Regions from separate parts of the Homo sapiens genome. Here region 2 is linked to region 1. Evidence: fine-mapped expression QTL. A gene starts in region 1. The other region holds a variant in brackets. All regions are shown on one strand. Distances are from middle to middle.

What was found. PIP is the estimated chance that this variant, and not a neighbour inherited with it, causes the effect.
Region 2: its variant is fine-mapped to the expression of CARD6 in whole blood (TOPMed, PIP 0.95).

The regions. Positions count from the first base shown.
Region 1 is chr5:40,840,033-40,842,837 of GRCh38, forward strand. CARD6 (caspase recruitment domain family member 6) reads left to right here and starts at 1,335. Exons shown (of 3, transcript NM_032587.4): 1 at 1,335-1,633. The coding sequence starts at 1,351.
Region 2 is chr5:40,703,697-40,706,501 of GRCh38, forward strand. It overlaps a transcript of PTGER4 not described here. Among named protein-coding and RNA genes, the nearest start is that of PTGER4, 25 kb to the left of the region's middle. The variant A/T (reference allele first, on the strand shown) is at 1,275.

The DNA.
Region 1 (2,805 bases):
AGTAGCCCTGATAGGCCCAACTCCTACATTGTAGGACATCCATGATCTCCTCCCCAATCCCATCCCATCCCCAAGCTCCCCATATGCGAGGTAACCATCATTCTGAATTTCATATTTATCATTCTTTGCTTTTTGTTTTGTATAATTTTAATGACTTCATGTATACTCTTAAATGTAAGGGTGTGTTTATTTTCAACTTTTAAAAAGGTTGTCATACTGTATATAATCTTTTGGGATTTACAGTTTTTCCTTACTATTGTTATGATTTCTCTATATTGTGGGTCACTGAAGTTCATTCTTTTTGAATGCCATGTAATATTATGTTATAAGAAATATCACAGTTTATTCATCCAGTATCCTGTTGCTAGTTATGCAGATCGCTTTCAGGTTCTTGTGAACTATGAAGGAGTAAATAAAGACCAACCAGGTAATTTTCTTAAAATAAATAATAATAAAAAACCAAAAATGTAAAATATTAAATAGTAATGTTTAAAGTGGAAGTATAAATCTCCCTGTAGTCATATTCTCAGAGATAACCAGTGTTAAAATTTGGGATATCTCTTGTCTTCTTTAAAATATAATGCATATCTGCATATACATATTATATACATATACTATATACACATTAAGTTTTTTAAAACAAAAATGAGATCTATAACTTGCTGTTTCCATAGCAATATATCATGGATATCATTACTTGTCAATATGTAGAGATGTACTTTATCCTTTTTAACAGTTCTTTGGTGTTTCACTGTCGACATGTCAATATTTATTCCCTAAACCCCAACTTTGGTTATTTTCAATTTTGTACTGTTGTAAACAATGTTGTAATGCAGATTCTTGTACATACATCTTCGGGCATTTGCTCAATTATTTCCTTAAGATAATTTCCTAGAACTGGAATTGCTGGGTTGAAGGATATGAAGTTTTATTTTTGTCTGTCTTCAACTTTATTTATTTATTGCTGTATATTGCCATATTGCCCACCAAATATCAATTAATAATTTACATTCTTGGCATCATAGTATAGTTCTCTGAGCAGGGAATACCTAGTCCAACCTGAAGTTCAAGAGCGACTTCTTGGAGGAGGTGACCCTGGGTCTGAGTCATGGTGAGAATTTATCAAGACTTCAAAAGAGCAGATAAATAATCCACAAGGACCCCGGATCAGAGAGTGCTCCGAGCTGGGTTGCCCCACTGTGCTTGTATCTGCACTCTCCAACACTAGGCATCATTGACATGTTAAAGCTTAGCCAAATAGAATTGTTCTTTGTCATTCTTTTTTTAACTTTTACTTATTCATTAGGATGATTTCATAATATATTTCCTGGTTTAGAGGAAACAGGAACAATGGCTACCGAGAGTACTCCCTCAGAGATCATAGAAAGAGAAAGAAAAAAGTTGCTTGAAATCCTTCAACATGATCCTGATTCTATCTTAGACACGTTAACTTCTCGGAGGCTGATTTCTGAGGAAGAGTATGAGACTCTGGAGAATGTTACAGATCTCCTGAAGAAAAGTCGGAAGCTGTTAATTTTGGTACAGAAAAAGGGAGAGGCGACCTGTCAGCATTTTCTCAAGTGTTTATTTAGTACTTTTCCACAGTCAGCTGCCATTTGCGGCTTAAGGCATGGTAAGTTGACTTTGTATACTTTTTGGGGTGAGAGGAAGGGGGCAGACTTTCTGAAAAAGAAAACAAAATGAAAGAAAATTGTTGCCTTTTATTTTTGTTAGTCTTTTTCTGGAGATAATTTTCATTGAAATATGAAATAGGGAAAAACTGGAATTTAAAAAGTTTCTGAAATTTAACATCTTATTGGTCTACTGAATCGATAATTTGTTTTTCAGACTGTACTCAAAACTTGAAGTTGTTTTAGTGCTAACAAACTGCTCATTATTCTGGCAGTAACATGCTAAAATCTCACAGTTGGAAGGAAAATACTTTAATAATAACACAATCCAGGGTTTGTTTTTCAAGTAGATGAATTCGTGGATATTTACAGTGCCAAGACCACAAGCTGTATCTTTCACTTAGTATAGCCGTTTTGAAAATACAAGGAAAATAATTTTTAACACATAGATGGCAAATCAGTAGTTTCATTTTTTTGGTGATAAGAATGCCAGCAGCAGCTGTTTTCTGGAGCAATTCCAGTGCTAATTCTTAAATGGTTCAAAGATAACTAGTAGTCCATGAAAAAGCAATTCTTCCAGTTATTTAGCAATTCTGTAAATTACTACTAGGACTAGGTCTAGCTCTTTTTCTAGGAATCTAAAAAAAAATTCAAAATTATTTTAAGGGATGTTAGAGAGGTAGAGGCTCAGATAAAAAGGTGAATGTTAGTGATACCTAATTTAGGACAAGATTTATATGCTTAGAAATTTTTCTTTTATTATTTCTAAAGCACACTATTCCAAATAGAGCCATTTGCTTACTGATTAGAAATTATTTGTGATCAGATTTCATTAGCAATGACCCCAAGAGACGTGAGTCTGTTGTGAGTCACAGTAAGTCCACAAGTAAACACTGTTCATATGATTCAAATTTTTCGTTTTATTCACTTACCCTGTAAGGTTGCTAGGAAGGACTCAAACTTTAAGCAAGACAGTGGTGTGATCTGATTTTTTTTTTTAGTGGAAAAAAGAAAGTTCTGAAAGTTGACATGTTGACATGCAAGTTATATAGGAGGTGTTAGGTATTCCTGTCCTCCAGTGAAATAAGAGGTGGCTGGGCGCTGTGGCTCACACCTGTAATCCCAGCACTTTGGGAGGCCGGGGCAGATGGATCACCTGAGGTCAGGAGTTTGA
Region 2 (2,805 bases), 140 kb before region 1:
GATCAAGACCATTCTGGCCAACATGGTGAAACCCCATCTCTGTTAAAAGTATAAAAATTAGCTGGGCATGGTGGCAGATGCCTGTAGTCTCAGCTACTCAGGGGGCTGAGGCAGGAGAATTGCTTGAACCCGGGAAGCGGAGGTTGCAGTGAGCTGAGATCACACCATTGCACTCCAGCCCGGGCAACAGAGCAAGACGCCGTCTCAAAAAAAAAAAAAAAAAAAAAAAAAAAAAAAAAAAAAAAAAAAAAATTTAGGAGGAAGGACTTCTCCCCAACTCATTCTATGAGGCCATCATCAGCTTAATACCAAAACCTGGCAGAGACACAACAAAAAAAGAAAACTTCAGGCCAATCAATATCCTTGATGAACATTAATGCAAATATTCTCAACAAAATACCTACAAACCAAATCCAGCAGCAAATCAAAAAGCTAATCCACTATGATCAAGTAGGCTTCACCCTCAGGATGCAAGGTTGGTTCAACATATGAAAATCAATAAACGTGATTCATCACATACAGAACTAAAGACAAAAACCACATGATTATCTCAATAAATGTAGAAAGACTTTTGATAAAATTCAACATCCCTTCATGTTAAAAACTCTCAATAAACTAGGTATTGAAGGAACAAAGCTCAAAATAGTAAGAGCCATCTATGACAAACCCACAGACAACATTAGACCAAATGGGCAAAAGCTGGAAGCATTCCCCTCGAAAACTGGCTCAAGACAAGGATGCCCTCTCTCACCACTTTTATTCAACATAGTATTGGAAGTCCAGGCCAGAGCAATCAGGCAATAAAAAGAAATAAAGGGCATCCAAATAGGAAGAGAGGAAATCAAACTATCTCTGTTTGCAGATTCTATACCTAGAAAACCCCATAGTCTCAGACCAAACACTCCTTCAACTGATAAACAACTTCAGCAAAGTTGCAGGATACAAAATCATTATACAAAAATCACTAGTATTCCTATACACCAACAACAACCAAACTGAGAGCCAAATCAGAAAAGCAATCCCATTCACAATAGCTGCAAAAATAAAATATCCAGGAATACAGCTAACCAGGGATGTGAATGGTCTCTACAATGAGAATTACAAAACACTGCTCAAAGAAATCAGAGAAGACACAAGCAAATAGAAAAACATCTCATGCTCATGGATAGGAAGAATCAATATCATTAAAATGGCTATACTACCCAAAGCAATTTACAGATTCAATGCTATTCCTATCAAACTACCAATGGCATTCTTCACATAACTAGAAAAAA[A/T]TTTTTTTTAATTTATATGGAACCAAAAAAGAGCCCAAATAGCCAAGGCAATCCTAAGCAAAAAGAACAAAGCTGGAGGAATCACATTACTCGACTTCAAACCATACTATGAGGCTACGGTGACCAAAACAACATGGTGCTGGTACAAAAACAGGCACATAGAACAATGGAACAAAGTAGACAGCCCAGAAATAAGGCCACACATCTATGAGCACCTGATCTTTGACAAAGCTGAAAAAAAGAAGCAATGGGGAAAAGACTTCATATTCTATAAATGGTACTGGGATAACCAGCTAGCCATATGCAGAAGATTGAAGCTGGACCCCGTCCTTACACCATATACAAAAATCAACTCAAGAAGTATTAAAGAGTTACATGTAAAACTCAAAACTATAAATACCCTGGAAGACAATCTAGGCAATACCATCCTGGACCTAGGAATGGGCAAAGATTTCATGACAAAGACACCAAAAGCAATTCCAACAAAAGCAAAAATTGACAAATGGGATCTAATTAAACTTAAGAGCTTCTGCACAGCAAAAGAAACTACCAACAGAGTAAATAGACAACCTAAAGAATGGGAGAAAACATTTGCAAACTGTGCATCTGACGAAGGTCTAATATCCAGCATCTATAAGGAACTTAAACAAATTTACAAGAGAAAAACAAACAACCCCATTAAAACATGGGCAAAGGACATGAACAGACACTTTTCAAAAGAAGACATAAATGCAACCAAAAAGCATATAAAAAAAGCTCAATATCACTGATCATTAGAGAAATGCAAATCAAAACCATGAGATACCATCTCACACTAGTCAGAATGGCTATTATAAGAAAGTCAAAAAATAACAGATGCTAGCTGGCAAGGTTGTGTAGAAAGGGGAACCCTATACACTGTTGGTGGGAGTGTAAATTAGTTCAACCATTGTGGAAAGCAGTATGGTGATTCCTCAAAGAACTAAAAGCAGAACTACCATCCAATCCAGCAATCCCTTTACTGGGTGCCTTTACCCAGAGGAATATAAAGCATTCTACCATAAAAACACATGCATGCAAACGTTCATTGCACACTGTTTACAATAGCAAAGACTTGGAATCAACCTAAAGGCACATCAATGACAGACTGGCTAAAGAAAATATGGTACATATACATCATGGAGTATTAAGCATCCACGAAAGAGAATGAGATCATGTCTTTCATGGGAACACGGATGGAGCTGGAGGCTATCATCCATAGCAAACTAACACAGGAACAGAAAACCAAATACTACATGTTCTCACTTATAAGTGGGAGCTAAATAATAAGAATTTATGAACACAATGAAGGAAACAGCAGACAATGGGGTCTACCTGAGTGGGGAGGGTGGCAGGGGGGAGAAGAGCAGAAAAGATAACTATTGGGTACCAAGCTTAATACCTGAATGATGTAATAATATATACAACAAACCCTCATGACACGTGTTTATCTTTGTAACAAACCTTTACATGTACCCCAAACCTAAAATAAAAGTTAAAAAGTAAAATAACT